Linked DNA regions of Homo sapiens. The protein of the gene in region 1 purifies or fractionates together with the protein of each later gene. This does not show direct contact. Each region holds a gene or a part of one and is shown in the gene's direction. Other genes may lie near its edges.

What was found.
Region 2: the proteins of TLDC2 (region 1) and ATP6V1D purify together in Homo sapiens (affinity purification with mass spectrometry; 2 studies listed by BioGRID and IntAct, with this or other methods). This does not show direct contact.
Region 3: the proteins of TLDC2 (region 1) and ADAT3 purify together in Homo sapiens (affinity purification with mass spectrometry; one large-scale study listed by BioGRID and IntAct). This does not show direct contact.

The regions. Positions count from the first base shown.
Region 1 is NC_000020.11:36,889,544-36,893,197, forward strand, and holds part of TLDC2 (TLD domain-containing protein 2), read left to right. Parts: intron 1-229; exon of another isoform or gene 230-3,318; 3' UTR 3,319-3,388; coding exon of another isoform or gene 3,389-3,523; 3' UTR 3,524-3,654. Other genes in the region: deoxynucleoside triphosphate triphosphohydrolase SAMHD1, read right to left, coding at 3,389-3,523.
Region 2 is NC_000014.9:67,349,763-67,353,416, reverse strand, and holds part of ATP6V1D (V-type proton ATPase subunit D), read left to right. Parts: intron 1-376; coding exon 377-494; intron 495-2,726; coding exon 2,727-2,806; intron 2,807-3,654. UniProt on the Homo sapiens protein: Subunit of the V1 complex of vacuolar(H+)-ATPase (V-ATPase), a multisubunit enzyme composed of a peripheral complex (V1) that hydrolyzes ATP and a membrane integral complex (V0) that translocates protons.
Region 3 is NC_000019.10:1,908,376-1,911,303, forward strand, and holds part of ADAT3 (probable inactive tRNA-specific adenosine deaminase-like protein 3), read left to right. Parts: intron 1-2,928.

The DNA.
Region 1 (3,654 bases):
AGGTGGGGGCAGGCACTGCTCTTTTGCAGAGGTGACTTTGAAGGATTAAAAGACGCTTACACCTTACTCAAGCAGCACAGAGACCCTAAGCTAACAGGGTCTTAGAAAACTCAGAAAAATCCACATCTCTTCCCCGCTAGTGCCTGCCTCCTGGCAAAGGGAAGATTTTTCACTATGCTGTTCCTCGCCAGCTACTGAACGAGGAAAACCAACCTCATGAACATTATCATTTTAGAGGTTCTACAACTGATTCATGTTTATTGTAGAAAAACCAGAAGACGTTAAAAAAATTAAAATTGCCTAAAATTCAACCCCCCCCAACTCTTAACATTTTCATGTATATCCTTCCAGACAATGTTCCATGAATGTGTGTGTGTGTGTGTGTGTATACTTACAAAAACAGGATTCTACTCTGTATGTGTGGAAATGATTTTAACTTACAGAATATTGTCAAACCTTAGAAACCTGGGCTTGAGCACTGGAACTAATAAATACTGTAGCAGCGTCGTTCCTCCTCTGGCCTGCTGCAGAATGTTGAGGCCTTTTTGTCTGCCACCAGTGCCAGGTGCTTGTGAGTCTGTTATTTAATTTCACAATGAAGGTATGAAAGGAGTAAATGAGTAATATGCATTTTTGGACAAAGAGGTCGAAACCTTTGTGGAACACAACTTTCAAGATGGAGATATATATTCACGAAGCTTTATTGCAGCTGTTTCCCTTACCCAGTTGAAGTGGCCAGTCATTTTAATTTGCAGTTCTATTTACATTCCCAAGGTAACCACGTTCAGTAACTCTCTAGAGGCTAAGCTGTTAAAATTTCCATTTTTATACAAATAGCAAAGATATTTCTTTCTCTTTCTTTCTTTCTTTCTTTCTTTTCTTTCTCTCTTTCCTTCCTTCCTTCCCTCCTTCCTTCCTTCCTTTCTTTCTTTTTGTTTGAGACAGAGTTTCGCTCTTGACCCCGAGGCTGGAGTGCAGTGGCCTGATCTTGGCTCACTGCAACCTCTGCCTCCCGGATTCAAGCGATTCTCCTGCCTCAGCCTCCCGAGTAGCTGGGATTACAAGCACACACCACCACGCCCGGCTAATTTCACCCGGCTAATTTTTGTATTTTTAGTAGAGACTGGGTTTCGCCATGCTAGCCAGGCTGGTCTCAACTCTTTACCTCAAGTGATCCGCCCACCTTGGCCTCCCAAAGTGCTGGGATTACAGGCATGACCACCTCGCCTGGCCAAGAAAAATGTAACCTTGTAAATAGCACAGCGTTCTCATAATGGAAACAGTTGCAAAGAACATAAAGTACAGCTGCGTTACATGTAACAAAAGATGCAAACAAAATAGATTCAAGTTGTTTTGCAGACAGCACAATGATACAATATTAGGACTACAGAATCTCAGAGTAAACCACAATGATTTAAAGGTAAGATACACAGAAATAAAATGATTTTAACAGAAAAATATGACATTCCTGACCTTAGGTCTGGGCACATGATGTCTGACCCCTATAGAGGCACCTTGGCTAAAATGGGAATGACCTAGTGCCATGGCTGACCTCACTTGTGCGTTGCTGAGCCCATATGTGAACAAATCCCCTTGATACAGCACCATGGTAGGCATGAGAGGAGAAGTGTTTTAACTATTCTCTTATGAATTGTAACCAACCCTTATTATCTACTGATGGATGGACAGGGGGTGGGGTGATCATACAGGATGGCAGACATTCCAAGTACTCTTCACCCCAGTGTGGACGGAACAGAATCTGGCTACACGGTGGCCAGTGATGGACTGCTGGGAAATCTGCTGGCCTGTGGTCTGAGTTCCCCTACTTGCTCAGGCTGCCCCTCACTCCCAGTGTGCCAGGGAGGCTTAGTCCGGGGAGCATCAGAGCAGAAGACATTCGGGGCTCATGGCTCCCATCCCCACTGGCCTGTATCTTCAGCACCCTCTGGCCACCACCAGCTTTGGCTCTAACTGCAGACTTTGTTCTTGGTGAATTGCTATAGAACTGGGAATGAGGTGTGCCCTGGGCACAGGGGCACTGCCCCACCAAGGTGGTGCCCACTCCACTGCTGGGAAAACGAAGTTACCTAGCGGAGCCTGGAGCCCACTGGGTGGTCACTAATTTCAGCACAGGCAGTGCAGTGTTTGTGCTTTTTTTTTTGGAGATGGAGTCTCACTCTGTCACCCAGGCTGGAGTGCAATGGCGTGATCTAGGCTCACTGCAACCTCCGCCTCCCAGGTTCGAGCAATCCTCCTGCCTCAGCCTCCCAAGTAGCTGGGACTACAGGCACACGCCGCCACGCCTGGCTAGTGTTTGCTCTTAAATACACAAAATGCACTGAACCAGCAAAAACAAAGTCCCAGGTCTGAGGAGCTCTGAGGATGATGCCTGTGATGGCCTCTGGCCAGCTCTCCAGGATACTGAGAGAGCAGGTCAGGGGAGGCCTTCTCCAGGCTGGGCAGTGGGAAGGCCCTCTGGACCGGGGGAGTGAGTATTCAGGGGACAAAGGCACTACCCGGGTCTGGAGCCGCCACGGAGCCAGGGCACAGCCTAGTTTGGGGGATTCCTCTGTCACTGGGGTAGGATCTCCCAACAAGAGGCGGCTTTATGTTCCACTCACGAAGAGGCCAGAGCTCTCAGATCTTCCCCAAAACCTAATCAGGCCTCTCACCAGCGTGTTGGAGGCCACTCCTGGCCATCATCTCCAACTCTTTACCCCAACCTGGCACCTTGTAGGGGGCTAGAAGGGTGAGGGGAGGTGTCTTTCACTTATGCTTAGGTCACTCTTAGAGGACTATCCTCAAACTTGAGGTGACAGGGAACTCTTCACGGGGGCAGGATTTGATGTTTTGTTTTTAGCCATGTTTGTCAATGACAATGTCAATTTCTAGTTCCAATTTGTACCCTTGTCTCATTTCTACATTAAAAACAAAAAACAATCATCTGTCATAAAAGTTCAGAGTAAGCTGGGTGTGGTGGCACATGACTTTAGTCCCAGCTACTTGGGGGGCTGAGGCAGGAGGGTCGCTTGAGCCCAGGAAAGTTCGAGTCCAAGCTGGGCAACAGAGCAAAACCTTGTCTCTTAAAAAAGAAAAAAAATAGAGTTCAGAATAGATAAAAGAGTTGTTATTCTAAGAAAATAGACTACTGAAGGAGAAAGGCTTTAATAATATTAAAAATAGGCAAGGTAATGCTTTTCATAGTATAGTAAGATTTGCCTAATACCATCTTATTTCTTTGATTAAAAGTTACTTAGCTTCAGCATGCGTGTACATTCAAAATACAAAATTAAAGCATGAGTTGTCATTAATTTGCAGAATTCTATGATTGAAGCCTCTAAATGAATTGTGCAGGAGAGGGAGTTTGTAAACAACTGACTACAGACATTCACATTGGGTCATCTTTAAAAAGCTGGACTCTGCTTTTGGATGCTTCTCGGAGGCGAGTTGGATTTTGGACTGAAGTACTGTCGTTCCATTCCTTTTTTTGAGGTGTTATGAGTGGGGCTATAACATCGCCATCCTATTAGGAAGAGAGAGAAAAACAGGCAATAGAGAAAAGCCAGTTTCCATCATCTTATTTCTGAGTGAAAGTCTCAAGTGCGCACATCCTCATCTTGCATATAGATTGCTTCTAGCTGTCCTCAATCCAGG
Region 2 (3,654 bases), on another chromosome or scaffold:
ACTTACACCTGTAGCTGGGATTACAGGTGTACCCAGATGAACTCACATTTAAAACCAACCCACTCCTGCAATAAGGAACCCAGTCTTACCATAATGACGTTAATCCATTCATGGAGGGCAGATCCCAGATGACCCAGTCATCTCTTGATGGTCCCACCTCCCAACATTGTTGCATTGGAGATTGTTTCCAACACATGAAGATTAGGGACATATTCAAACCATAGCATCAGTTAAACCTGTCAGCTACAAATTCTCTATATAGTCTCACTTTCATCACATCAAAGGATAAAGGATAATTTTAACACTGGTGGGGAGGGTTTTTTTTGTCTTTTAAACAATGAGAATAGATGTCTTAACTTTGTTTATGTTTATATAGGGCACAGACCATCATGAAGGCTCGTTTAAAGGGAGCACAGACAGGTCGAAACCTCCTGAAGAAAAAATCTGATGCCTTAACTCTTCGATTTCGACAGATCCTAAAGAAGATAATAGAGGTAGAATGAACTTTTCTTAGAATAGTATTTATTTTAGAAAAATCCAGCATGGCCCTTGGCATTTTTTTTTTTGTTGTTGTTATTTTAATTAATTTTTTTCTTTCAAAAGTAAAAATACCATTATAAGTTTAACAAGTGTCAAATATCAAATAGTTCATTTAATAAAATCCAAACTCTTTAATCTTGCCTGCAAAGCTCCACTTGATCTGATTGGCCCCCCGCCTGCCTCTCTTACCTTATTTAGAGCATTCTTCCTAAGGTCCTCCAGGTACTTTTCATTAGCTCTTTCTCCTGCCTGAAATACTCTTTCCCCAGAACTTATAACTGGCTCCTTTAGCTGTTCTAGTCTCTTAAGAGAGGCTGTTCCTGATCACCCAATCTAAAGTGAACACCATGTTTGCTTCTCTCACAATTCCTTATTTTAATTTTATTGTAGCATGTACTACCGCATGGTATGACATTTTATTTCTAGTCTTTTTCTTTTTTTTTTTTTTTTGAGGCAAGGTCTTACTCTGCAGCCTCAAACTGGGCTCCAGTGATCCTCCCACCTCAGCCTCTCGAGTAGCTGTGACTACAGGTGCATGCTACCATTCTCAGCTCATTTTTTTTATTTTTAGTAGAGACGAGGTCTCACTATGTTGCCCAGGCTAGTCTTTTTGACTCCCGGGCTCAAACAGTCTTTCTATCTTGGCCTCCGAAAGTGCTGAGTTTACAGTTTTTGTGTTTTATTTTTAAACCTGTACGTACTTAACAAAAGCATTTTCTATGAGTGCTGTTTTTATTTTTATTTTTTTATTTTTTGTGGAGATGGGGTCTTGCTTTATTACCCAGGGTGGTCTCAACCACCTGGGCTCAAGTGATCATTCCACCTCATCCTTCCAAAGCACTGGGATTACAGGTGTTAGCCACTGTGCCTGGCCCTGTACTACTTTTGATTATTTGTGAAGTTAAGGAGCTTTTCATGCTTATTGACAATTTGATTTTCTTGGTAAATGTCTTCTTTTTTTTTTTGGTAGAGGTTCTATGTGTATTCTGCCTAATGTGTAAAATGTTAAAAATATTTTTTCCACGCCTTTTCTTTTAACTTAAAAAAAAAAGTTAATACTAGGTGTGGTGACTCATGCCTGTAATCCCAACACTTTGGGAGGCCGAGGTGGGAGGATGGTTTGAGCCCAGGAATTTGAGACCAGCCTGGGCAACACAGTGAGACCTTGTCTCTACAAAAAAGAAGAAGAAGAAGAAGAAAATTAGCAGAGTGTGGTGGCATGCACCTGTAGTCCCAGCTACTTGGGAGCCTGAGGCAGGAGGATTGCCTGAGCCTATGAGTTTGAAGCTGCAGTGAGCTATGATTACACCACTGTACTCTAGCCCAGGCAACAAAGTAAGACCTTGTCTCAAAAAATAAAAATAATAAAAAGTTAAAAATGTTTTTCCTTTGGTCAAATCTGTTGGTCTTTTTCTTTATATAGCTTCTGAGTTACATATAAGGCTTAGAAAAGACCTAAAATGATTAAGAAAATATTATGCCACATTTTCTTTTGTTGCTTTACAGTTTTTTTTCTTTAAACCTTTATCTTAATTATGTCTGAATTTTGGGGGCAGTATGATGTGAGGTAGGTAGCTTTATCATTTTGTACTGTATAGACAGTAGAGTGGTCTCTTTACTAAATTTCCATATAGACCTGGGGTTGTTTCTGAATCCTCTAGTCTATTTCATTGACTTAACTGTCCCAAACCAGATATATTAATATTTCCTTATTGTAGCTGTACCTTTTTAATACTTGGGAAGGCAACTCCCTACCCAGCTGACCCAGTTTTTCTTCTCTTTCTGAAACATTATTGAATATTCTCAAACATTAAATATTCCAGATGTACTTTAAAATTAATACACCATTAGGGTTTTGACTGCAACTGCAGTGAATTTAAGAGATTAGTTTGAGTAAATCAGCATGTACCCATTCAGGAATAATATAGGTCCTTCAGTAAAGATTCAGTTTTCTGTTTCTCAATGCATTTATTCTGTTTTAATTATAAAACTCATAGTTTGTAATATTGTTAGTGATCATAACCAAAACTGTTAAAAATTGGAAATTTCTGTTTGTCGTTATCAAACCAATATTTACATGCACAGCCAGCATAAAATACTGATGGTTATTAAAGGAACATAATTATGATGGAATATTTCCTTGTAAAAGGCTTGGTTGAATCTGCTGTTGGTTTATGCTTTTCCAGACTAAAATGTTGATGGGCGAAGTGATGAGAGAAGCTGCCTTTTCACTAGCTGAAGCCAAGTTCACAGCAGGTGACTTCAGGTAAGGGGACTAAACGGGGTGTTTTGAAGCAAAACAAAGTGATTTCAGTCTCATAATTTCATTTAAAAAGCATTTTTTAATTTAGAAATAAGCGTTAAGGACAAATGATATAGTAATAATAAGAAAGAATTCTTTTAACCCCATCACCTTAACTCCACTGTCATCTTCCACATGTAATTCTTACATAGTTGCAGGCGCAGGATACTTAGTATTTTAGAGTCCATTTTCATTTAACGTTGTATCATAAACATTTTTCCTTATTTTCAACATGGCTGTATGATCTTTCTCAAGATGTATTTTTTTTTTCTCCTAATGCTGGGTATTTGGGTTAATTCTCAGTTTTTTGGAATATTAGGGAAAGTGCAGTGAACATTTTTACACATATGTATTTTTGTTTCTACTGAATTATTCCCGTAGGATAAATTTTTGAGAATTGGATTATTTAAAAGGCATGAACTTCATGGCTTTGGTGACATCAGTAAATCCTTTACAAAGCATACAAAATAGCTTGCAAATGTGTTATGCCAATTTACATATGTTATGTAATTCTCCAAATAACACTATGAGATAGGTAAGGCAAGCATTGTTATTCTCAGTTTTAATTAAATGCCTTCCTGAGGTCACTTGGCTAATTAGGGGCAGAGGCAGAAGTTGTTTTCAAGGTTTCTGATTTTATTATTTTCCTAATGACATGATGCCTATTATCTAGGAGCTTTCACTGCTCTTGGGCCTTAATAAGGCCCTTTGAAGTGGTAGGCTTTCATTTTTGCCAGTGCTGGTAAGATCACAGCTTGCATTGAATTTTCTAGCAGAGGGTGGAGATCAATCAATAGTGTATAAGTGGTATG
Region 3 (2,928 bases), on another chromosome or scaffold:
CCCATCTGTGGGGCGCCCCGGCGGCTGAGGCGTGGACCAGGCAGTGCATGTCGAGGAGTAGCACCCACAGCTGCGCGGCTGCGAAATGATCCAGAGACACATCCCTGTCTGCGGGAGGAGCCGTCCATACCAGCGGGGATGTGTAGTCCAGGCTGGCAGTTCAGGATCACCCGGCTGGAGTCATTTTAAGATCATCTGCGGCTTAGCCCCAGCACCATCTGAGGCAGTACTGTCTGCTAGAAATAACTGTGAGCACACAGGTAGTAAGGTTTTTAGGATTTTATTATTATTTATTTATTTGAAAAAAGGAACAGGGTCTCTCTATCTTGCCCACGTTGGTCTCAAACTCCTGTGCTTAAGTGATCCTCTCGCCTTGGTCTCCTGAGTAGCTGGGACTACATGTGCACACCACCGTGCCCAACTAATTTATACTTTTAAGCAATGTGGGCTGGGCACGGTGGCTCACACCTGTAATCCCAGCACTTTGGGAGGCTGAGGCAGGTGGATCACCTGAGGTCAGGAGTTCCAAGACCAGCCTGGCCAACATGGTGGAACCCCGTCTCTACTGAAAATACAAAAATTAGCCGGGCGTGGTGGCATGTGCCTGTATTCCCAGCTACTAGGGGGGCTGAGGCAGGAGAATCGCTTGAACCTGGGAAGTGGAGGTTGCAGTGAGCTGAGATCATGCCACTGCACTCCAGCCTGGGCAACAGAGTGAGACTCTGTCTGAAAAAAAAAAAAATGTGGGCTGGGCATGGTGGCTTACGCCTGTAATCCAACCTCAGGCCTGCGGTGCGAGTCTGTGGGGGCAGATGCAGGTGGGGGAAGGCTGGCCAGCTGAGACTGTGGTTTGGGGGTGTTCAGGTGGGGTGGATGCCAGAGATGTGGGAGCCAGAGGCGCTGTCCCCCAGGGCCCTGTGAGCAGTCCCTGCAGGCTGGCTGTCCCCACGCCTGCCTCTCTGCTGTGCTGTCTGCCCGCCTAGGGCAGGCTCCCTTCTAATGGGCGGATCCCGAGAGCTGGGGGCCCCACCAGCCCTTCCTCTCCAGTGGAGTGGCCCTACTGCCTCATGTCCACCTGTGCCAGCAGCAGGGATGGTAATGGCTCTACTATCTCCTGTCCTCACCTGTGCCAGCAGCAGGGATGGTAACGGCTTTACTGCCTCCCGTCCTCACCTGTGCCAGTGGCTGGGATGTCTTCACCTGTGCCAGCAGCAGGGATGTCCTCACCTGTGCCAGCGGCAGGGATGGTAACAGTGCTGGTGATGTCAGGCCGGGAGGTTCTCACCCGAGAGCCGCCTTGGCACACTGCCCGGCAGTCAGGGATGTTAGCAGGAGCCCCGGGAGTGATCCCAGCTCTTCCCGCAGCCCCACTCCAGCCAGGGCCTCCTCTGTGACTGAGTAAGCAGGGACACCCCAGTGGCTGCCTGCTCCACCCGACAGCCAGGGCCCACCACAGCTGCAGGAATGTGGTCAAGGGATGGGAAGTCGGGCCCACCAGGGGAGGGGCTGCGCTCCGGGGCTTACGTTTCGTGGCTTGTCTTCTGAGGTCTCTCTTTTCCTAGCCCTTGGCCGACTAGGGGGCGAGTGTTTACAGAAACCACTGGAGGTGGGTGTTCCGTGTCAGTGCCAGGCTGTGTGCTGTTCTGGGAGGGGGCCCCGTGTCCCCCACACTTGGCATGCTTGCTTTCTGTCACTGCATAGCAGACTCCGTGCATCTGTGGGCTTAATACAACACCCGCCAGCTCCCGGTTCTGTGGGTCGGGGCCTGAATGTGACATGGCTGGCTCCTCTCTGCGGGGTCTCACCGGGCTGGAACCCAGGTGTCAGCCAGGGCTGTGTTGTCATCTGGAGGCTCAACGGGGGTGGCATCTGCTTGCAACTCACGCAGGCGTTGGCGGAATTCAGCAGCTTGCGGCCGGGGGACCAAGGGTCCTGCTCAGTTCCTGGCCACATGGCCCTTCTGTCTGGAAGCCAGGCGCCGCCTGTCCCCGCTTCTGCTTCCAGGCTCTGGCTTCTGGAGATGCAGAGATCACATCAGTGGTTGCCTGGGTTGCTGTGTGTGTTGTAGGGTGGTGAGACAAGTTTTCTCTTAGGGGTGATGGAATGTTCTGGAATTTTATAGTGGTGATGGTTGCACAACTCCAAGTGTCCTAAGAGCCACTGAATAGGACACTTGATAGTTTTTGGTTTTTGAGGTGTCTTTTTTTTTTTTTTTTTTTTGAGACAGAGTCTCGCTCTGTCACCAGGCTGGAGTGCAGTGGCACGATCTCGGCTCACTGCAACCTCTGCCTCCCAGGTTCAAGCAATTCTCTTGCCTCAGCTTCCTGAGTAGCTGGGATTACAGGTGCGTGGCACCATGCCCAGCTAATTTTTGTATTTTTAGTAGAGATGGGGTTTCACCATGTTGGTCAGGCTGGTCTCGATCTCGTGGCCTCATGATCTGCCCGCCTCAGCCTCCCAAAGTGCTGGGATTACAGGCTTAAGCCACCACGCCTGGCTTTTTTGTTGTTTTTTGACAGTCTCGCGCTGTTACCAGGCTGGAGTGCAGTGGCGCGATCTCGGCTCAATGTAACCTGCGCCTCCCAGGTTCAACCTTCTGGGTTCTCCTGCAAGCCTCAGCCTCCCTAGTAGCTGGGACTACAGGTGCGTGCCACCAGGCCTGGCCAATTCTTTGTATTTTTAGTAGAGACGGGGTTTCACCGTGTTAGCCAGGATGGTCTTGATCTCCTGACCTTGTGATCCGCCTGCCTCGGCCTCCCAAAGTGCTAGGATTACAGGCGTGAGCCACCGTGCCCGGGTTTTCATTTTTTTTTTGAGATGGCATCTTGCTCTGTCAGCCAGGCTGGGGTACAGTGGCACGATTGTAGCTCACTGCAGCCTTGAATTTCCGGCCTCAAGTGCTCCTCCTGTTTCAGCTTCTCGAGTAGC